3 linked regions of the Homo sapiens genome follow. The protein of the gene in region 1 purifies or fractionates together with the protein of each later gene. This does not show direct contact. Each region holds a gene or a part of one and is shown in the gene's direction. Other genes may lie near its edges.

Region 1 (7,992 bases):
AATACGAAATGCACAGCTGGCTCAGTATAATTTTATTTTGGGTAATTTAAGTTTGTATATATTTTTCCAAATGCTTTTTTTTCCCACTTCAATTCCAAAAGACCAAATAAGAAATATGGTTCAACTACTTGATTATCATGATTTGTCTATTTAATACTTACACAAAAGGAAGAGTCCATAGCATTCCTAGCTTAGCTGTTCCTAGGTACTCTTTGTTGTTTGCTGGAAGAAGAGTTGTAAAGTTTCACCTGAATCCCCTGGGATAGTTTTACTAGCAATAGTTCATATTGCAAGCAAACAACGAAAACAACTCTGAAAATGATCCCATCAGTAGAATTATATACTTTATATTTCAGCCTCACAGGCCTGTAATATTTTCCCTCACTTTTCTGGCTTATTAGGAAACTTTGGGATTAAACTAACAGAAAGAAAAGATCCCAAATTTAAAATGATCTAAAGGAAAAGATTTAGATGAAAAGTAAAATGTCCTTTTAGCATATGACTAATTAGATGCAGAATCTAAAATTTAGGCTTTAAAAATGATTCCAAAATTAAGAGAAACTAACACTGATATAACTGCAGGCACAGTATTGCTATTTCTTGTAAGTTGAGAGTCTGTAGAAGGCGAAATAAATATGCATAGCATTGTTCTATTGACAGTGTTTCAATGATAATGTTTGACACCAGAGTAGGTATTGTGCTGTTTCAGTCAGGCTTCTTATGGTGGCAGAAATCTCAACTTGGTTTAGACAAAGACAGCATTTGTTGGAAGGGTCTTGGAGTATCCCATGACATGAAAGGTAGAATTAAATAGCCAAACCACTAGAAGAGCAATCAGGAGCTCAACCCTCACCAGGAGTATTTCTCCCCATTTCTCGTTCCTGTCTTGCTCTGGTTCTTTATGCTTCTCTTGAATATCTACCTTATTCCACTTATCTGCAGACCGGTTTCTTCCTTCTGTGTGGCAAGAAGCATGGCTGTAGATTCCTGCATCATCTCACAATATGGGTCACTAGAGAGAACAAACTTTTTACCCACATTCCAGAAAGTTCTGGCTGGCTCGCATGGGTCTGGTGTCCACTCCTTGGCTCATCAGGTATGCCAGGTGGAGTCAGCGTGAGCCTGTAAGAGCTCCCCGCTCTCATCTGCACCCTAGTGCCAGGTGGGGTCAGTGTGAGCCTGTAAGAGCTCCCCACTCTCATCTGCACCCTAGTGCCAGGTGGGGTCAGTGTGAGCCTGTAAGAGCTCCCCGCTCTCATTTGCACCCTAGTGCCAGGTGGAGTCACTGTGAGTCTGTAAGAGCTCCCCGCTCTCATTTGCGCCCTAGTGCCAGGTGGAGTCACTGTGAGCCTGTAAGAGCTCCCCGCTCTCATTTGCGCCCTAGTGCCAGGTGGAGTCACTGTGAGTCTGTAAGAGCTCCCCGCTCTCATTTGCGCCCTAGTGCCAGGTGGGGTCAGTGTGAGCCTGTAAGAGCTCCCCGCTCTCATTTGCGCCCTAGTGCCAGGTGGAGTCACTGTGAGCCTGTAAGAGCTCCCCGCTCTCATTTGCGCCCTAGTGCCAGGTGGAGTCACTGTGAGCCTGTAAGAGCTCCCCCCTCTCATTTGCACCCTAGTGCCAGGTGGGGTCAGTGTGAGCCTGTAAGAGCTCCCCCCTCTCATCTGCGCCCTAGTGCCAGGTGGAGTCACTGTGAGCCTGTAAGAGCTCCCCCCTCTCATTTGCACCCTAGTGCCAGGTGGGGTCAGTGTGAGCCTGTAAGAGCTCCCCGCTCTCATTTGCGCCCTAGTGCCAGGTGGAGTCAGTGTGAGCCTGTAAGAGCTCCCCGCTCTCATTTGCACCCTAGTGCCAGGTGGGGTCAGTGTGAGCCTGTAAGAGCTCCCCGCTCTCATTTGCGCCCTAGTGCCAGGTGGGGTCACTGTGAGCCTGTAAGAGCTCCCCGCTCTCATTTGCGCCCTAGTGCCAGGTGCAGTCAGTGTGAGTCTGTAAGAGCTCCCCCCTCTCATCTGCACCCCAGGACCACAAGAGCTGTTCTCTCAGGTGGACAATAGAGAGATGGGATCAGAAGTCATTGCTTCCCTCAAGAAACTTAACTATCAGAGGATGAACCAAATGCTCATTAGATGATATTTAATATTAGTGAAGAAAAACTTGATAAAAACATGTCATGGGACTGCTGACTTAATGTTTGGTAAATTGCTGATTTAAAATACATTTCTTTACCTTTCTTTTCTGCAGTGGTTGGAGAAAAGGAAAAGATAGATAATGCTGTAAACGTGCGAACAAGAGACAACAAAATTCATGGAGAGATTTTAGTAACTTCTGCCATTGATAAACTGAAGAATCTCAGGAAGACACGGACACTCAATGCTGAGGAGGCCTTTTGAAGTCCTTCCCTGATATTTGCTTCTGTGTAACTTTGTTTTGACCCTTAAAAATGTATTTTTCTTAACATGTTAGTACTTCTACGACTTTGGAGCCACTGATGGGTCCACTCATGGCCTCAGCTGAGAAAGGAGACGATGAACGTGTAGCTGACATGCACGAAGTTTAATTTACTCATGTCCACGGGGGACGTTTAGAGGGCACGTGGGAAATTTTCCAGCAATCAATGCCTTGAGAAACTTAAATGGGGAAATATTATTCATCGAGAAAGTGAAACAAAACACTAGGAAATGATTATGAAATGTTAGTGATTTTCAAAAGATGGGCTTCAAATAAAAGTCTGCAGAGTTTTTTTTAAATAGGAGGGAAAATCTTATTTTCTAATATGTCTCAGGTATTTTTATGACTTCTACTAAAATTCACACTGAAACTTTATCTTCTAAACTGGAATCATTACTTAATTTTAACTAACCAACAACCACAAAAGCAGCAGCTACTGCTAAATATTGGATTACTGACAAAGGAATTCAGTTTTGTGGAATCTGGTGTTTGCACTATAGGTTAAGAGTTGCCATTTAAATGTTTCTTATTCATAATTAGGTTTTGTTCCGCTTTAGAAAAAAATAAATTCCCAAATGAATTGCATCAGTGTTTCCAGCGTTTCAGCTGTGGGCTTCTACCACCACTAAGCCGCTCACCTAGAGTTGTTACTTTTTTGATGGGATGACATTCCATGGATTTATGTACTGAAATGGATTTCAGATTTTAAAGAGAGGAATGCTCTACGTGCTCAGAACTGAATTAAAATGGCATTATGTCAATAGAGAATTCAGCTACCAAACAAGAAGTATTGTTTATTTTGCGATATGCTGTGAAATTCAAAAGAAATGTAAGAAATAATCTCTTTTCAATATACTGATCATTTAGTTAACTTCCTGAGGGATGTGAACAGTGAAACAGTTGGCAAACAAAACAATATATATCAGGCTTGTGTAGTAGTATAAGGTGCAGATTGTGTGATATGATTTTTATTATTTATTTTTTGAGACGGAGTCTCGCTCTGTCACCCAGGCTGGAGTGCAGTGGCGCGATCTCGGCTCACTACAACCTCCGCTTCCCGGGTTTAGGCGATTCTCCTGCCTCAGCTTCCCCAGTAGCTGGGACCACAGGCGCGTGCCTCCACGCCTGGCTAATTTTTTTGTATTTTTAGTAGAGACAGGGTTTCACCGTGTTGTTAGCCAGGATGGTTTCGATTTCCTAACCTCGTGATCCGCCCGCCTGGGCCTCCCAAAGTGCTGGGATTACAGACGTGATTCACCGCCCCCGGCCGTGATACGATTTTTAAAGCTAACATTCAGGGCTTATGTGCCGGCACTTTTCCATGTATTTTTTAAAAAGTCATTCAGCAAACATGCACGTGAGGGGGTGGTAGTCAGAAGACCGCGGAATGAACGATCCCGAAGCACGTGGGTGGGAGGAGAGCACCTGTCACCAGCGCTTTCTCCCAGGTGTGCTGTGACAGAAACCGGCAAGGGTCTCCGCAAGCTGGGGCCTGAGCGCGGCTCCCCAGACGGCCGCGACCTTCCCCAGGCAGGGCTGGGCTCTGGACCCTCCCCTCACTTCCCAGCGCCTCGGGCCATCCTGCTTCTCCAGGCCTGAGAGGAACTTTCTGGAAGTGCTGCGTATCTTCAAGAGGCCGGCCAGAAGTGAAAGCCGCGGCAGGCCTGAGCGCCGGCCCCAGGGGAGGGGTCCCTCGGGCCCTCGTCGTCCCGGGGCCGCTTCCCCGACTGTAAATAAGTGTCTTTAGGATGAAACGCCACGCGATAGTGTCCTCGGAACCTTCGCACGAGATCCAGCACACAACATCCGACCACACACTGGGGCGGCCAGCCTCCCGCGTTCGCCCGCCTCTGCTCTTGGTTGCTTCGGGCGCGCATTTCGGTCCACGGATGACCTTTAACAGGTCTCCTGCAGTGGAACCAGGGGTGAGGGCCTCGTCCAAGGGCGTGAGGGGCGCGTGGAAATGGAACAACCTCCCAGGCTCGCATCCTCCTCGGGGACCTCCCAGAAGGCTCAACCGGAAGAAAACCCGCGACCCGCGCGAGGACAGCGAAAGCGCAAACGCCGGCCGCCAGGAGTCGCAGCGCGCCTGCGTCCAGTTCACGCTCCGGCTCCCAGGCGCGCCCCGCCCCCCGGCCCGGAAGTGCGCAGGCGCTGGCAAGATGGCGGGAGGGGTGCTCCCGCTGAGGGGCCTCCGCGCCTTGTGTCGCGTGCTGCTCTTCCTCTCGCAGTTCTGCATTCTGTCGGGCGGTGGTGAGTCAAAGGCTGGGTTCAGCGCCGGGTGGGGCTGAGTGGCAGCAGGGCCCCGGGAGCTGCGAGGAGGCCGGGCCCACGGGCGGACGCTGACGCGGGGAGGAGGCCGAGTGCCGGGCTCCGGGCCGCTTGTCGCTGCATCTGGAGTCTGGCGCCCTGGCCGCCCGGCCCGAGGCCGCCCCTCCGCTCCGGCGACACCGAGCCCGCCATCGCGGCTGCGGAGCCCTGGCACGGAGATGGAGCGCTTGGGGGCTGGGCCGGGGAGGCGGAACTGGAGCGCGATGTCATCCTTCGGTCCCTCGTTGCCGGCTGACCTGAACTGATGTCTACTCTGTTGACGTTTCGTCCCTAAGCTTTGTGTTTTCTGGCTGACCAGCCGTGAGGTTTTCATGAGCAGCTTATTGGCCTGGTGTAGACCCGCCGTGTTAACCACACAAAATAAGGTTTTCTTGTCCCGGGATAACGTGTTTCTCTAATTGTACGATCCTTAAATTTAGAGCAATCGCAGGCGCTGGCTCAGTCAATAAAGGATCCGGGCCCAACACGCACATTCACAGTAGTTCCCAGGGCAGCAGGTACTAGACGTTTTCTATTCTAGTAAATACATGTAGTTATCTCTAGTAGTTTCTCTTTGTTTTTATAAAAATTCCCTTTAGTATACGAAGTCACTTTCCATTTTTGAATATTTATTGTATTTTAGATTATGTGAATTAAGGGTAGATACACAGCCATTTTCAGTAGATAGTCTTCGTATTTATACCTTTTGACGTTTCTGCCTCCTCTCTTTTTCCAATCCCACGCTCATTTGTCACCTTATTTCTATTATTTTTCCACTTCATCCATCAAAATAACCTTCAGTCCGTGCTTCTTTCCCTTCAGCAAATTTCCTCTACTGCTAAAACCCTGTTCCTGATGTTGGAATATTAAAGGCTCCCTCAGGACTGTGGAAATGGAAGGATTACAGCGGGACTGATGGAGACTTGAAATCTAGATCTGGTTTTGCTACTGGGATCTTGAACAAATTATTTATCCTCTTTGGACCTTGGTCCTCATCTTTAAAGCGGTGGGGTTGGTCTGACGACCTAAAGTCATTTCTGCTTTGTGATTCTAAGTGTCCACCTTCCAGCCACATAGTCACGGGATCAAAAAGAGTATTTTGTAGAATTGTTCCTTAATACAGTGAGTAAAGTAGGACCAGTTTTAAACAAGCATTAGTGTGTTTTGCTAGGTGGAGGCTCTGACTATAATTTCATCACTTTAAAGTGACATTACTTCAGTGAATTGAAACTGGCAGAGATATTTTACTGATTCTTATTTGGATGTAAAAAACAGCAGTGCACTTGAATTTTAAACTCAGATTACTTTTTAGAGAAAGCACAAGAGTTCTTAACTCTTGCAGGCTTTTGAAAGCCCTTCTTTTCAGGAATACTTGCAATTTTGATCCTTTCAGTTGGTAAAAATACATTGCACACTCATTAGGTTGGTTGGAAATAAGTTGCAGCTTACTGAAGATGTTATTAAAGTAGAGAACTGTTTTGAACTTTGGTAGCGTAAAACTGTAAATATTATATTAGCAAATGTGGCTTATCGAAGTACCAGTGTGAAATAATGACATTTTAAAGTTGATGCCCTGAGGATGTCAGTGGCTTCATTTCTGAATTAGTGAATTCAGATGAAAAGAACACGGGATTGGAAATGGAGAGATTTGGGTTCTAGTTCCAGTTTTGCCACAGACTTCCTCTGTGATTTTGCAAAACCCTACTGTAAGTTTTTTTTCAACTTACAAAATGATAGTCTTTTTTTTAAGCCCTTAATGTATACCCAGAATTTTCTATACATTATTTGTATATGAGCACCTTTAGTTTTCACGGCCACGTGGGAGGCAGGAATGAAGTAATGTTTTACAAGTGTGGTGCTCACCAGGTCCCACAGCTGGCCGTGGGCAGAATTCTGCTTTAATTGCAGGTGTCTCTGACTCCAGTCCCATGCTTCTTCCCTTCCAGTGCAGTGTCTACTTGCTAATGATCACGTCTCTTAACCTTAGAAGATTGTTCTCTGTTATTCGAATCAGTATTATAGGAGAATAAGCTTCTCTCTTGCCTCTCACAGAAAGTACTGAAATCCCACCTTATGTGATGAAGTGTCCGAGCAATGGTTTGTGTAGCAGGCTTCCTGCAGACTGTATAGACTGCACAACAAATTTCTCCTGTACCTATGGGAAGCCTGTCACTTTTGACTGTGCAGTGAAACCATCTGTTACCTGTGTTGTAAGTACTGCAGCTTACTTATTCTAAATAAATTCATTGTAAACTTTAAGTTAGAAGAACAATTCAGACTTGATTATTGGGAAGAAATTCTGAAGAATTTTTATATTCTTTTATGATTTCCCTTTTGAGTATGTAAGCAGAAATAAATTAAAAAACCCAATAGACCTTTCCATATCAGCTCACTACTGTTTTAGTTATAATGATAACTGTCAAGCCAGTTGATGTCTGCTGGAAATGCACTTGACAGAAATGTTGCTTTGTAGGACTGGAGAAGATCTCAGTCTACTAGCATATCTGAAGCAAGTCTAATTCGTTCAGATGGATTCTGTGTTCTCAATAGTGACAGCTAGTGTACAGAGGGGGTGGCAGTGTCTTTCTGCCATAGATGAGCTTTTGAAGGGCCAGTGCTTATCTGTGGTGAGAAGATGGATTCAGTAAATGCCGGAATGCCTGGTAGCTCTCTAGAACAAAATTAAGTGGAACGCCTGTCTTATCCAGAATAAATTCCAGATAGTCCAAAGATGTAATGTGAAAAATGAAACCCTGAAGTACCACAGAAAACACCAGATAGTTGCTGTTATAATCCCAAAATGGAGAATATTTTTCTAAGTATGAAATAAAGTTTAGAAGCCATAAAATAAAGAATTGATACATTTGACTCCTAAAAATTGGAGATTTCTGCATGACCTAAAAAAAAAAGCATAAAGGCAAAAGACATGGCAAACTAGGAAAAAGCGTTTCTAGAATATGTGACAAATAATACAGTAATATCAGTAATATATAAACACTTCCTAAAACCCACACGGAAAAGATGACAGTCTTGTAGAAAAACAGTGTTAGGACATGAGCAGATGGTTCATAGGAAAGGAAATACAAATAGATATATAACATGAAAAACATATAAGTTTTCTCATAGTATTTAATTAATACATTTTTAACCCTTAGATTGGCAATTTTTTTTTAATTTGATTAACTCTGAGTTTGTGAGAGTATAAGGGTCAGATGCTCATATCTTATTAATAGGTAATCAAAT
Region 2 (7,859 bases), on another chromosome or scaffold:
TTGGTAATTCATATGATTCTTTTATCATGGAAATCAAGAATAAAAGCACATACTGGGGAGGAAGTATTCCTATTAGCTTGATTCCTTGTTTTTCTCACCAGGTACTTCTGGAAAAATACAAATATGTGGAGAATTTTGGTCTAATTGATGGTCGCCTCACCATCTGTACAATCTCCTGTTTCTTTGCCATAGTGGCTTTGATTTGGGATTATATGCACCCCTTTCCAGAGTCCAAACCCGTTTTGGCTTTGTGTGTCATATCATATCCTTTATTTATGCTCAGGTTGTTTTCTAGTGACTATTTTTTTAAATCTGCTGATATTTCTCCCTACAAAAAACAAAACGGACTTTCATATTAGGGCTTGCTAATGTTAGAATTCAACATTTTGAGCTGTGATGTTTATATAGTAAATATCTATCAGTTTATATAGTAACTGTCACTGATATTTTATGTTTTGTATGGTTATTTTATCGTAATTCATTTTTGTTATTAATGTAGAGGTTATTGTCCTAATATGAGCACTTAATAGCAAAACACATAGTAATAGTGAACCCAGCTCTTCTCATTTCTAGCCCAGAACTTTTCCCGTTAGACGTGGCTGCTTCAAGCCACTCATTCTAGGATATTAGGAAAGGATCTGATTTTGGAGACTCAGATCTGTATTAAGTTTACTTGAAGCTGAGGAGCTGAACTGGAAAGTACTGAGCATGAGATACAAGTGTGGCTTGTATTACAGTGGAATTAAGAACTTATTCTGGAGCTAGAGAATATGGGTTTGAAATCCAAGGTATCTGTGATCTTGTGCTAATGAAAATTTACTTATTTTTGAGATGATTTGAATACCACTCATTTATAAATATGGGTAGCATTCAGAATTATCATAAAGATTAAATGAGAGATTTTATATTGTATTTGATACATAATCATTTCCTTTCCCCTCTTTTTTATGATAAATGTAAGATCATGGTCGTTGCCTACCCAGCGTGATTTTTTTTCTCAAGAAGTTGAATATAAAGAACTTAATTATACTTCACTATTAAAATAGGTAATTTTGGTTGGTAGTTTACTTTTTTAAACAATGTTACCACTACCTAAATTTTGTTTTGTTTTCTTTTTTTTGAGACAGGGTCTTACCGTGTCACCCAGGCTGAAGTACAGTGGTGTGATCATGACTCACTGCAGCGTCAGCCTCCTGGCTCGAGCAATTCTCCCACCTCAACCTCCTGAGTAGACGGGCACATGCCACCATGTCTGCCTAATTTTTAAATTTTTTACAGAGACAAGGTCCTACTACGTTGCCTAGGCTGGTCTCAAAACTCCTGGGCCCAAGCAATCCTCCCAAAGTGCTGGGATTACAGGCATAAGCCACTGTGCCCAGCCAACCTGAAATATGTTTTAAAACTTCATGTTGGGGATTTATCTTCAGAGGCAGTTAGCAAACCTCTGATAAAGCAGATCCTAGTCAAAAATTGTATTATCCAGATTGCCCCACATTTCCCCCAGAAGTGGCACCAGGTGATCCTTGACTCCTTTCAGTAATCAGATTAATCATCCCAGTATGAATTTTTCACTATTAAGGCAGTTCAGAAGAATAATATTCCATAGGTTCTAGAGACAGTTCCCAGGGGAATTCCAAAGAGATTTGAAAATGATAGCAACATTATTACAAATATCTGGCCTCCCAAGAGAACTACCTTGATGGTAATTCATTTGTTTGGTTATATTTGTTTAATAAAACAAGGTCTTATTTTTGTCATGTCAGTTTTATTTATAATGTAGGGACTACCATTATAAATGTCTTCTGTTGCTGGGCATCGTGGCTCATGCCTGTAATCCCAACACTTTGAGAGGCCAAGGCGGGCGAATCACTTGAGCCCAAGAGTTCAAGGCCAGCCTGAGCAACTTGGAGAAATCTGTCACTACTAAAAATACAAAAATTAGCTGGGCATGGTGGCGCATGCCTGTAGTCCCAGATAGTTGGGAGGCTGAGGCACAAGAATCACTTGAATCCAGGGGGCGGAAGTCACAGTGAGCCGAGATCTGCTACTGCACTCCAGCCTGGGCGATAGAGCAAGACTCTGTCTCAAAATAAATAAATTAATTAGATAAAATAAAAAATAAATTAGCTGGGTGTAGTGGCACACACCTATAATCCCAGCTACTGAGGAAGCTGAGATGGGAGGATTGCTTGAGCCTGGGATGTTGAGGCTGCAGTGAGCTGAGATCATGCCACTGTACTCTAGCCTGGGTGACAGAGTGAGACCCTGTCTCAAAAAAAAAAGTCTTCTGTATCCTAGACTGCATATATCCTTCATCTCTAAATCTCATGATAATTCTAAAACATCAGTATTATCCCAATTTTAAAGGTAAGGATACTAAGACTTGGGGAAGGAAGTTATTTGTTACAATCATACTGATTAAAGGCCAAGATTTAAATCTAGGATTATCTCTACTCTAAAGTCCATATACTTTGTACTATATTTTCCTGCCTTTCCTGTTCATGAAATTTATCTATTTTTTAACTCTTCTTTAATGGAATGCTTCATGAATTTGCCTGTCATCCTTGTGCTAGGGCCATGCTAACCTCTGTATCGTTCTAATTTTAGTATATGTGCTGCCGAAGCGAGCACTGTTCATGAAATTTATTTTTATTTTATTTATTTTATTTTTATTTTTTGATACAGGGTCTCACTCTGTTGCCCAGGCTGGAGTGCAGTGGCACGATCTTGCCTCACTATAGCCTCTGCCTCCCAGGTTCAAGTGATTCTCCTGCCTCAGCCACACAAGTAGCTGGGATTACGGGCCTGCACCACTACATCCAGCTAATTTTTTTTTGGTTTTTGTGGGTTTTTTTTGTTTTTTTTTTTTTTTGAGACAGAGTCTTGCTGTGTCACACAGGCTGGAGCACAGTGGCACGATCTCGGCTCACTGCAACCCTGCAACCTCTGCTTCCTGGGTTCAAGCCATTCTCATGCCTCAGCCTCCTGAGTAGCAGGACTACAGGCATGTACCACCATGCCCAGCTAATTTTTGTATTTTTGGTAGAGACATGGGGTTTCACCATGTTGGCCAGGCTCATCTCGAACTCCTGACCTCAAGTGATCTGCCCACCTCAGCCTCCCAAAGTGCTGGGATTACAGGTGTGAGCCACCACGCCTAGCCTTAATTTTTGTATTTTTAGTAGAAATGGGGTCTCCCATTGTTCCTTGTTGGCCAGGCTGGTTTCAAACTCCAGGTCTCAAGCAATCCACCTGCCTCGGCCTCCCAGAGTGCTGGTATTAAAGGTGTGAGCCATCGTGCCCAGCCTTGTTTATGAAATTTAAATGGCACAGTATACACAAAGCTCTTATGCCAGTTTTTGGCAAACTATAAGTGCTTATTAACTATGGTACTTAATACTGTCAAAAACAATATAATAATAAGTCTATATGCATATAGGAAGTAATCGTAGTACTATTTGACATACTCTCTTATAGTAAACTATTTGGGTCACTTTTCTTCTCTTAATAACCCTTAAAATCAGTTGAACATGGTCAAGTCCACTGGGACTATTCGTTGTTTTTTATAAAGAAATAAGCACTATTATAACAAAGTCTTGACAAACTAGGTATCTTATTATACATGTTGTCTTTGAACATAAAGATGAGAGCTAGTTTATGCTCTGTATCTTTTTCTTTTCTTCCTTTCTGAGGTGTTTGCAGAATTAACCAGAGAGAGCCTTGCTTCTCTTGGTATATAAACATAAGGATGAAAATGAAATAGCTAAATTTTCAGTGTTTTGGCAGCAAGACAAAGCTGTCTTCTTTAGGACTATCATTATGAAAGTTTTTATATCTGTTGCTTGTCAATTTGTGTTACTTCTCTTTTATGTTTGGGTATTTTCCCCTTAACTTTATTTGAACCTATTTTGTGATGATGGGGATTCTGACCATTTATACCTCATATAAGGAGAAGAGCATCTTTCTCGTGGCCCACAGGAAAGATCCTACAGGAATGGATCCTGATGATATTTGGCAGCTGTCCTCCAGTCTTAAAAGGTATGACTATCCTCACAGATTTTTAAATCCTGGTGTTGGATTTGCCCTGGCATGTTGTCATTATCAACAGAAGACTTATTATGTGCCTACTCTATGTGGATCATAGGGCTAGTCATATAAAATGAAGAAAGGAGTATGGATGATCTAGAAGGTTTGTCCTAGCCCTATAGTTCTGAGATTGCGTTATCACAGAAATGCTCTGAGGATAAACTGTGGGAGAAGGTACTTTTTCCTGTGGCCAGTTAACAGAGACGATTAAGCATACAAAAGTATAAAGGCCAAAGATGTGAGATCAGTTATCTTTGAAGAATTCCATTAGCTTCTGTGTCTTCTATGATCCTGTCTTCTCTCCACGAATACAATCAAGAATATCTGGAGCAGTGCACTGGGCAACTCAAAAAAAGCACAATCTAGAGTCTGTTTCTGACCAGTGTCAGGTATAACTTTGTGCAGCTGACACACATGTGTTTTGTAGGTACCAAGAACTAGGTTCATGTTCCAATTCAGTTTCTTTCTAGCTGTATAACTTTGGGTAAATCATATAAATTATCTGAGGTTTAGTGGGGTCAAAAATGATGCCTAGAGTTTCTGGGAAGATGAAATACCAATTATAATAATAGCAAATGTTTATTGAACATTTACTGTATGTTGGGTATTCTGCTAAATGCATTATCTCATTAAGTTTTAGAACACTCATTTTATAGATAAGAATACAGGCCCAAAGTTTAAATCAACTCTTCCAGTATCATATAGCCCAAAAGTGGTAGAGCAGGAATTCCAGCCCAAGTTTGAAACCAGAATTCATACTCGTAGTCACTATCTTAAAAACCTATTATACTTAACTGGTGCATAATAGCCGCACAAATTATAGGTACAATTATTTATATATGAAGTTAAGTGTAGCATCTGTGCCATACAGACTGTCTCATTGCCAACTTGTAGAAGCGCCTATGAGAAAGGGAAGCAGACCTTCATTCTGTTGTTGCAGCTGAGTTCTTGCTTATCTCCTGACAGGGCTTCTAGCTGCCCTTTGGCCTCAGCCATCATAATCTGCATCCTCTACCAGGCCACTGAAGCTGAGTTGCAGAATTCTAAAACCTAGCGGCATTATAATTTCATTATTTTTATTCTGACTTTTGTATTTTTTAAGAACTTTTATATAATTCACCTACCATACATACAGTTCACCCATTTAAAGTGTACAGTTCAAAAGTACCTAGTAGTATTTACAGATATTTGCAACCATTATCACAGTCAATTTTAGAGCATTTTCATCACCTCAAAAAAAAAACCTCTGTACTCTAGCTAATCACTTCCCTATCCTCCCACTTGCCTGAGCCCTGGGCAACCACCAGTCTACTTTCTCTGTTCTCTTTTATGGACATTTCATATGAATGGAATCATACAATATGTGGTCTTTTATAACTGGGTTCTTTCACTTAGTGCAATTACTTCCTATGTATACTGCACACAAGGTTCGTTCATGTTGTAGCATGTATCAGTACTTCATTCCTTTCTATGGTCAAGTAACATTCCATTTTGTTTATCCATTTGTTGACAGACATTTGGGTTGTTTCTACTTTTTGGCTATTATGAATAATGTTGCTATACATATTTGTGTACATGTTTTTAGGTAGACATGTTTTCATTTCTCTTGGGTAATACACCTGGGAGAAGACTTGTATGGTATGCTAACTCTCTTTGTTTGATGAACTGCCAGACTGTTGTCCAAAGTGGCTGCCCTATTTTACAATCTCACTAGCAGTGTACAAGGGTTCTGATTTTTTTCACGTTTCCTGCTGATTTTTACCAACTGCCGTATTGTTGGTGGAGTGGAATGTGAATGTTCTTGCTCTCTTCCCGGCTTTCTGCTGATGTCTTCTCCCTCCCCCACCTCACCGACTGATTTAGTAGCTTAACAGTGGCTGATTCTGATGTCTTATTCCCACTGCCAGGTCATGTGATGTGAAAATGGCAATGAAAGGTTTCACAGACTACTAGTTGCCACGTGCAGACAACACAAGCTATGTGACTCTCTCGCAAAAAGTGATTTTGTCACTCCCCAGCAAATTCATTATACAGTCTAAACTCCTTCAGCATATGAAGTATTACAGCATTCATCCCCTAGTGACATCTCCAGCTTTCTTTTATGCCCCTCTCAAAATACATTCTCTTACTCTGGCAATATTATGGAATTTGCAATATGCTAAGTTATCCAAGTTTCCAGTGACCCCGTACCTTTAAACATATTCTTCTCTCTGGCTTAGCTATCTTTCTGTAACCTGGCTCACTCCTACTTCCAAGAAGCCTTCCCTGACATACCTTAGTCTTCCTTAACATGCCTTAGTCTAAATTAGGTGGTCCTAGTTATTCTTTTTTTTTTTGAGATGGAGTTTCACTCTTGTCACCCAGGCTGGAGCGCAATGACGCGATCTTGGCTCACTGCAACCTCCTCATCCGGCTTCAAGTGATTCTCCTGCCTCAGCCTCCTGAGTAGCTGGGATTACGGACCCACGACCACACCCGGCTAATTTTTGTATTTTTTGTAGAGATGGGGTTTCACCATGTTGGCCAGGCTGGACTTGAACTCGTGACCTCAAGTGATCGCCTAGCCTTGGCCTCCCAAAGTGGTGGGATTACAGGTGTGAGCCACCACGCCCAGCCCATCCTAGTTATTCTTAAAAGCATTTATGCTTACCTCTGTTAGTTACCACATGGAGCTATAATTATTTAATATCTGTGTCTCCTCCTGGGCCCGCCCCCTCCTCCAAAGTGTGAGCTCCTTTACCATTCACTATACAGTAGAAACCTAAGCCCAGGTGGGACTTTCTCACTCACCCCTTGGTAACCAGACCCAGCCCAGGGCCTGGCGTGGCATGTTTTGTTATGTGAATGATTGACATTCATCTGGGCTGGGCTGCAGCCTTGACCTCCTAATTAGTCTTTGCCTGCAGCCCAGTCATTGTCAGCCATCCACAAAGTCCCCTATAACCTAGCCATCTCTATGAACATTCCCTTCTCTTTTTTTTTTTTTTAAACAACAAATTGGATCCACTGAAACTTTTATTTAACTTTGTAATATGAACATTTACCATATAAGGTTATAAGACAATATAAAATCTATCTCATTTCATTTATAGCATAGCTATAAATCAATCTAATCTCTCTTATTAATGTTTTATATATATATATATATTTTTTTTTTTCCTGCATACTTAGGCAATATTTTCCCCAAGGGATATATCATTCTCAGTAAACTACCGCAAGAACAAAAAACCAAACATCGCATATTCTCACTCATAGGTGGGAATTGAACAATGAGATCACATGGACACAGGAAGGGGAACATCCCTTCTCTTTCTTACCCTAAGTGAAACCTGACCATAACCTCTGAGGACATATTTCCACTGCAGACTGCAAGTGGTGGCTGATGTTTCTCTCACAGCCTTCATTACTCCGGTACTACAGGTAGAGATGGGTCTCTCCTTTGCAGCTTCCAATGCGTCCTCTTCCCTAAAATCCCCCCTTTGAATGCATGTCATCACATTGTGCCACTTCTATGCCTCTTCTTTGCGGTTAAACACACACCTAGTCTTTTGAAGATAATTCCTGGCTCATTGGCACTCTCTCTAACATTTGTCCTTTCTTAAGTCTTGGTGATTGCCATATTCACATAGATGGTTATTCTAGTAACTTGGCCTCTCAGTTTTACTTCCTTTCTTCCCATTATCCTGTTTTCTATCATGCCTTAAACATTTATTTTCATAGACATACCCTAGTAGACCTTGCAATTAATAAGAACAAATTACCTGCAATAATTT
Region 3 (7,859 bases), 5.3 Mb from region 1:
CTCTGCTTTCTTTTTTCCTTTCACTTTTTGAAACGAAGAGAGCGCGATAGGAAGTAGGAAAGGGTGGGCGAGGGGCCCTGGGCGGCTGCTTTCGCTCTGCGCGAGTTGGGTCTTTGTGATATAAAATTCGCCGAGCGCCGCGAGCCGTGCTTTGCCAATGGCGCGCTCGGCGCGGGGCGCGGGCTCCGGGTTGGGGCGAGCCAACGCCGGGGTTTCTTTGTGTTTCTGCGAGAGCGACTCTCCCGGTCCGGAGTCAGATAACAGCCTGGGCCCGAGCCTCGCCGGCTTTCCCCGGCCCTTACAGGCCCTGCCCAGGCTCCGCTAGTGCCGGCCGCCTGCTCCCTGCCTCTCCCGGCTTCCTCTCTCTTTAGCCGGCCTCTCTCTCTCCGCCCTCTCCCTCCGTCTCTTTCTCCGAGCACACTGATTAGACAGACGCCAGACCTCCGCTCTCTGCTTGTCTCTCACTGGGGGGGTTCCCCGCCGGGCTGGGGCTGGGGCTTCGGGGTTTGTGGGAGAGTCGTTCCGGAGTGGCCACAGGCCGTCTGGGGTGGACCCTCGTGCCTTTTGCAAAAGCGCCTCACCCTCCCCCCAGACTCGCCCCTCCCGCTCCCTCTCCTCCAATCAATAAGAAATATCAGCTGTTTAGCAGTAAAGAAGAAAGATGCCCTCAGAATGCTACATCCCGCCCACAGCGCCGGGGACCCCGAGGCAAGGTGGCCAATTCTGGGTCCTCGGCGGACCAGCCCCGAGCGGGCCTCGGAGGCAAGTGTGCCCCTCTGGCCCTCAGAGCTCGCCTGGGTGGTGGTTTGAAAGGAATGGTGCCAAGAGCCTGGCGACTCCAGCTCTGTGGCAGGCCTGCCTGGTTCTTGCGCTGCTCAGGGCCTGGGTCAGGTGGGGGTCGGGCTGGGGCAGACCCCGCCGGGGAACCTGGGGACTGAGGCTGGTCATTAACTGTGGAGTGTCTCCTTTCCTCCCCGCAGCGGTGCAGAGGGGCAGGATGCCGCCGACCCAGCCGACCCACGGGCAGTTCGCGCTGACCAACGGGGATCCCCTCAACTGCCACTCGTACCTGTCCGGATATATTTCCCTGCTGTTGCGCGCGGAGCCCTATCCCACGTCGCGCTTCGGCAGCCAATGCATGCAGCCCAACAACATCATGGGTATCGAGAACATTTGCGAACTGGCCGCGAGGATGCTCTTCAGCGCCGTCGAGTGGGCCCGGAACATCCCCTTCTTCCCCGACCTGCAGATCACGGACCAGGTGGCCCTGCTTCGCCTCACCTGGAGCGAGCTGTTTGTGTTGAATGCGGCGCAGTGCTCCATGCCCCTCCACGTCGCCCCGCTCCTGGCCGCCGCCGGCCTGCATGCTTCGCCCATGTCCGCCGACCGGGTGGTCGCCTTTATGGACCACATACGGATCTTCCAAGAGCAAGTGGAGAAGCTCAAGGCGCTGCACGTTGACTCAGCCGAGTACAGCTGCCTCAAGGCCATAGTCCTGTTCACCTCAGGTAGGAAGGAGCCCTGTCTTCTCGTGCCCACGGGCTCCTAGCCCAGAGCTGGGGCCCAGAGAACTTGGGAGTCCCCAGGGCAAACCCAGTCTGCTCCTTGAAAGGCCAAACTGTTGAGTGCAACTTAAAGTGGGAACTTTTTATAGCTGCTGGGCACTACCAGGCCTGTCCTGGGGAGAGGAGAGGAAGGCTGGATTGCAGGAAGGATGCTTCAGATAGATTCCCCACATGGGCCATAGGGCAGCCTCTGCTGCCTGTTTCCCCCACCTGCAGTATCCAGATTGGGATGCCCTCTCCTGCTCCCTTTCCTGAGCCCAGGCCCCCCGGGCCTGCTGGGCCCCAGGGAATCTCCTCAAGCCCTCGGTTTTCTCTAGCGCCCTGGCTGGGCCTCCAGGAGATGCCCTGGGCAGTGGAGCAGCCCTGACATTGTCTCTGCAGGGAAAAGTTTGCCTGCTAACTCAATAGGAGTTGGAGCTCCAGGCAAATCCAACCTGAGGGCAGCAATTTTCAAAATCATATTCTTACTGGAATAATGCAGACTGCCAGGAGAGGCGAAAAGATGTGTCAGGATGGGGCAACAGGAGGAAAGGGACCGTCATAACTCTTCAGAATGTCTGCAGGAGGTTGAAGACTCTGGCCTCTTGCTTCCCCTGCCCAAGCAAACACTTAAGGCAATTTTCAAACAACCCAAAGTGTATGCCAACTTGGGCTGGATATGGATGTTGCTAGAGATATAAAACCATCATTGACTGCATTATGCAATCTAATTAGTTTGCATGTAGTTTAACCTGTGTGAGTAATAGAGCTGATACTAATTAACTTGAGGCAAAATGATTTTTGAAGGTGTCTGGCTTTCCATTTTGGGCCACACCTGAGCTTTTTGGCTGCCTCCAGGCTGAGTTCAGCATAGCCCAGGTGGATGGAAATCACCAACCCCCTTTCACATTCTTGTACTAAGTTGTCAGCTGATCCTTTTGTCATGGCTGAGAGGGGAAAGGGGTTCCCGATTAAGAATAACAAACATCTGGACGTTAGCAGGGCTTGGAACCTAGTCACCCACTACAATTTTTTAAGCTTGTTAACAGGAAACGAGGAGAGATGTGTAGTTTATGTGGCAAACATAAAGGAGGTCCACAATCTCTTCCTTATTGTTCGAAAGAAGTCTGGGGAACTAAGTCATTAGCTGAACAGCTTGCAGCTTCTTAGTCCTCAAACTGCTGTCTTGTACATTGCTGCTTTCCACATAAAACCTCCCAGCACAGCCACCCCAAATTCTGCCTTTGGAAGTCCTTAGGTAATCAATTAAAGGCCAGTGTCTGGGCAGGGAAGCTGTTTGCAGAGGTTTGGATAGGGATTATTTTTCTCGAGTGCCCCTCATACCTAGAACGTTTGCCTGCTGCAGATATACAGACAAGATATCTCCCTACCTCATAGCCACCTTCACCCCTGTCCCACAACCCAACACCCAGCCCACCTTCTTGGACGATGGAGGTAGTCGTTAATTTCTTGGTATCATTGCTAGCTCTTAGCCTTACCCTTGGTCTTTCAAGGAAAAAAAAATGCCTGATACTGTCGTTAACAGTTTAATTTATGACTATTTGCAAAATGTGGAGGCCTGTGTGGAGAATGCAAATCGCCTCACAAAGAGATAAAGGTTCCTGTTATCTGATTCAGAGGGAGACACACAGTTCCGAGGATGCCGAGGGAAGGAGTCCTGTGCAAACAGATCTTTTAGTTCCTGTCCACAGACACCTCTACATTCTGTAGACATGCAGAGTCCTAGATATACATATGAGGAGGTTGCATGTGTGTTCTGGTTCTTGGGGTGGAGGTGGTGGTGGAGATTTTCGAATATCTGTTTTAATGACTCACAATATGCATATGTTAACCCCAGTCTTGTATGGGGAGCCCTGAAAGGTCAGGTCACAACCTGAACCGCCTTTACCAAGAAGCTTCTCATTTCAAAGGCACTTACTGTATTTTCACGTATCAAAAAAGAAAAGTGTTTTCCTGAAGATAACAGGGAGGGGGGATGCTTCTCGGAGGGACCTGGGTTTTAAAAAATAAAGGGGGGTAGGAGAAAAAGGGAGAGAGAAGAAAAAGGGGGAAAAGAAACAGCTCAAATGAACAGAGAGATCACGGTTTGCATGGCTGCCCTTCAATAGGCTAAACTGACAAGATCAGTTTTAAAGGGCCACTTAAATCAGTTTCAAAGACTGGAGAAAAATGAGTCGCCCTCTTTGGGGGGAATCTGAGGCTGGATCGTGGACGCCATTACTCGGGACTGGGCCAGGTTGTCCACCCCCAACCCCCAACCCCTATATAATTATAAGCCAAACTATTATTTACAGAGGAGGAGGGGAGAGAGTGCTGGTAGTTTTGGTTTCTTCTGTTTACTGACTTGGGCCAGACAGACCCAATGCACTTTTGCTTGGGCCTCTCAATGACCCAGGCTAAGGACTCGGGCAGTGAAAGCCTGTAGCACACTGAGCTATGTTTTATTTTAAAGCAAACACTTCCTCAGGACCATCTCTTGCTCTTTCTTCCCCCACCCCGCCTCCCCCCCTTAAGTTTTCAGTACATAGACATTTGCTCCAACTCCGGTTGGGGCAGTTTGACAGAGCTCTGTGCACACACCTCATGTGACCCAATTCAAACCTCTTAATCTGATGACTGAATTCTTCTTCTTCTTCTTCTTCTTCTTTTTCTTCTTCTTCTTCTTCTGTTTTTAAACTTTCTTCCAGATGCCTGTGGTCTCTCTGATGTAGCCCATGTGGAAAGCTTGCAGGAAAAGTCTCAGTGTGCTTTGGAAGAATACGTTAGGAGCCAGTACCCCAACCAGCCGACGAGATTCGGAAAGCTTTTGCTTCGCCTCCCTTCCCTCCGCACCGTCTCCTCCTCAGTCATAGAGCAATTGTTTTTCGTCCGTTTGGTAGGTAAAACCCCCATCGAAACCCTCATCCGGGATATGTTACTGTCCGGCAGCAGTTTTAACTGGCCGTATATGGCAATTCAATAAATAAATAAAATAAGAAGGGGGAGTGAAACAGAGAAAGAAAAGGCAAAAGACTGGTTTGTTTGCTTAATTTCCTTCTGTTAAGAAAGGATATAAAAGGATGTTACAAGTTTGCTAAAAGAAGAGAGGGGAAGAATTTAATGGACTGTGAATTTCAAAAAAAAAAAAAAAGACTGTCAAATGAACTTTTACAGAATGCATTAAAAAAAAAAAAAAACTCCTGTGTCGGTCAGAACAACTTGCTACTTATCATTTTTGTATAAAAAGGAAATTAGTCTTTTTCTTTTTTTGGTAAATTTTTGAAAAATATTGCTAAAAGTGCATTTAAGGAGATTGGGAGACAATTAGCAGAATGGAGAAAGTAAGTCTTTTTTTTTTCCAAATTATTAATTGTCCTGTGTCTATGTACCTCTAGCTGTTCTTTTTTGTACTTTTCTGGTTCCAAACCAGTTTATTCTGTGGTTCTATAATAAGTTTTGATATAATCTTGGCTTCTTAAAAACTGTGTATCATTAAAATATATGTTCTGCAAGAATTAAAACTGAGTCCATGAAAATACCATAGGAAGACATAAAACTTTAAAAGGCAACTCAAAGATGATGGAAACGCACTTACAAGTGGTGACCAAAATTTTTAGGTGAAGTCGAGCACTCTAATTAGAGAACTGGAGGAACCACATATAACACTTAACTTCCCCTACCCTGCCCCTCCCCAAAAGAAACCATGACAAACCTAGCTTTTAAAAAATATTTTAAGAAAGAGAATGAACTGTGGAATTTATTGGCAGCCAAGGAATGTGTCCAAGACACATGCTGAGGTTTTGAATAAAAAGTGAACTTTTGTAATTTGAATTGGGTCCCGCTTAGTTCTTGAATTGTTATGAAAATCCTATATCTGTTTGTATATTTGCAAACCCTTTGTATTATAATTGTTGATATTTTCCCTTTTTAAAAAATACCATTGAAATCAGCATGACAAAAATAACACTGTTGGCACTTATAGGTAACGTGATTGATTCAGTATCTTAGAGTTTACAGTTTGTGTTTTAAAAAAACTGAAGGTTTTTTTTTTAAGTGCAACATTTCTGTATACTGTAAAAGTTATAATAACTGAACTGTTTGGTCGAGTCTTTGTGTGTTATATTCCAAGGAAAATTGAAAGTATTCAGAAATTAAAATATTATTTGATATCTGAAACCTGGCTGTCCCCACTCACTGTCTTTACATCTAGAAGAGCCCCTGTGAGCTCTCGCTTAGCTGGCCGGGCGGGGGGTGGTGGGGGGGGGCATTTGTTTACTCCCCTCAGTCAGTTTGTTCAAAGGTGGACTACTGTATTTGCCTGTTTAATTTGGGTGTGTGTGTGTTGGGGGGGGAGCTGAAGTTAATGGTTTATCTATGGTTTAGGAAGTGCCATACTGATATAGTAAACCACCCCCATTCACCTAATCCTCCTTTTAATTAAAAATGGATTTTCCAGGAAAAAAAAAAAGGCCCTTATATTTGTCACACTTAAGTGCCTGCTTAGGGAAGGTATTGTGAAAAAGTATTAGAAATCTTGAGATCAGTATCTATTTTATGATCAGAAAAAAATACTCTTTTGTACATTTCTGACAGTTACTCAGAAGATCGTTCAAGCAAGCTAATCACAGCATTGTAACTAGAGGACAGTTGTTTGCAGTGAGTTTTTCCTTAAGTAGGTACGATTTTTTAAAATATTCTGTGATTCTACTCTAGCGTGGTTGTTGAGAGAGTTTCAAATTCAGTGATACAGGTTCTAAGACTGAAAGGTCTACTTTTAATGTATATATGATAACTTGCAGTTGGTTTCCCTCTCCCCTCCCCCCCTTTACCTTCAGTCTGTGAGAGCATGACCACAGGGTCAAGGGAATCTTTTCCATTGGAGTTATGTACATAAAAACACATCGACATTTTGACATTTCAGATTGTGTGGCTACAATCTGTACTGCTCTTGGGATCCTTTGTCCTTAGAAGCCAAATTAAGGAAGAGAAAGCAGGACAGAGAAAAAGAAAGAAGGAAGGAGGGAAACTTTACAGGGTGTGCTGATTTGGAAGTAGTAACTATTTCTTTTGGAGTCTTTTTTTCATTTTTCCTCTTTCTCTTTTCCTGGTTTGGAGGAAGCTCGGTGCTGGGAGCTTGCAATTTTGTTCTTATTCAAGGTTTCCAACCCACCCCCCCACCGCCAGTACTTCATCATGTTGTGGTTTAATTCTAATTGGTGGGGGGGGGGGAGGACTAGTGAGGGAGGTGAAAGAACAGGGATAATTTTGTAAAGTGTATTAAACGTTAATATTCAGATCCAGTCAATACATGCAGACCAGTAAAATCTGATTTGTGCAGAGTTCTCCATCTGACTCTCACTTATTTCTGTAGATATATACATATATAAATACAAGTATGTTCTTACGGCACAGTATTGCTGACCTTTAGTTCGAGGTTTTGTCGGTTGTTGTTGATTTTCTTCCTCTTGCAAGTGCTATCCATGTGAGTGTGTGAAGTTTCTCTAATAAGTAAAACACAGGCCCTTTTCCTTGTTTGTTTTGTGTTAGTTTATTGTAAACAGCCATTTGTTGTAAATTATTATTGGCATTAAATTATAATTTATGATTTTCAAAGCAAAAGACAATCCCTGTTTTATTATGCTTTAAGCATGTGTTCTAGACGTTGGAAATCTCTCTCGCACTCTTAAGTTTAAGCAATGAGCTTGGGGTCTGCGAGGCAGAAAAACAGGACCCAAAATTTTTCAACCGGTTAAAACAAACCCCCTTGTATATGTTTAGAGTGGCCGGAGGAGGATCTGTTTAGAGTCTTGAGTTCGGTTTAAGTTTATTGCATTTAAAGAAAGTTTTTCTTTTCACGCTGAGTTAGAACAAAAGATCTTTGCTGCGACTGAATTGGACAAAAGACGAGGGCTGGGACCCAGCGAGCGCGTTCTGTGTGAAATTGACGAGATCTTTAAAAAAGCTGCTAAACATGGCGACTCTTTCCCTTTAAGTGTCTCTTTTTCCTTGCTGGGTTTTTTTTTTTTTTTTTTTTTCATCTGATCTGAGCTCGCTTTATTTCTTTTCCCAACCCCGCTCCCCCTCCTCCTCGTGGCGCTCGGGGGTGTGAGAGAACCCAGTTAGACGCGAAATGCAACAATAGTGCAAGGAGAGAGAGGGGCGCTCGCTGCTTCTCGCCACTTTCAAACAAACCTGGGGGAAGATTGAGCCCGGGGGGGATTCCAGCCTGCTCGCTCGGCTCGCGGTCGCCCTGCCTCGGCCTTTCACCATTAGCTCTCCCTGGGCCGCGAGGAGCTGGGGCTCAAAGTTAGCGGG

What was found. The genes of interacting proteins can lie anywhere in the genome.
Region 2: the proteins of TM2D3 (region 1) and SPCS2 purify together in Homo sapiens (affinity purification with mass spectrometry; 3 studies listed by BioGRID and IntAct, with this or other methods). This does not show direct contact.
Region 3: the proteins of TM2D3 (region 1) and NR2F2 purify together in Homo sapiens (affinity purification with mass spectrometry; 2 studies listed by BioGRID and IntAct, with this or other methods). This does not show direct contact.

Annotation. Positions count from the first base shown.
Region 1 is NC_000015.10:101,648,971-101,656,962, reverse strand, and holds the start of TM2D3 (TM2 domain-containing protein 3 isoform a precursor), read left to right. Parts: upstream 1-4,581; 5' UTR 4,582-4,601; coding exon 4,602-4,692; intron 4,693-5,189; coding exon 5,190-5,267; intron 5,268-6,801; coding exon 6,802-6,959; intron 6,960-7,992. Other genes in the region: TARS3 (threonine--tRNA ligase 2, cytoplasmic), read left to right, coding at 1-41, 2,233-2,381. UniProt on the Homo sapiens protein: Probable positive regulator of Notch signaling.
Region 2 is NC_000011.10:74,965,662-74,973,520, forward strand, and holds part of SPCS2 (signal peptidase complex subunit 2), read left to right. Parts: intron 1-101; coding exon 102-262; intron 263-3,903; coding exon 3,904-4,038; intron 4,039-7,859. UniProt on the Homo sapiens protein: Component of the signal peptidase complex (SPC) which catalyzes the cleavage of N-terminal signal sequences from nascent proteins as they are translocated into the lumen of the endoplasmic reticulum.
Region 3 is NC_000015.10:96,333,096-96,340,954, forward strand, and holds the end of NR2F2 (COUP transcription factor 2), read left to right. Parts: intron 1-165; exon of another isoform or gene 166-212; intron 213-669; exon of another isoform or gene 670-762; intron 763-980; coding exon 981-1,508; intron 1,509-4,252; coding exon 4,253-4,527; 3' UTR 4,528-7,163; downstream 7,164-7,859. UniProt on the Homo sapiens protein: Ligand-activated transcription factor. Activated by high concentrations of 9-cis-retinoic acid and all-trans-retinoic acid, but not by dexamethasone, cortisol or progesterone (in vitro). Regulation of the apolipoprotein A-I gene transcription.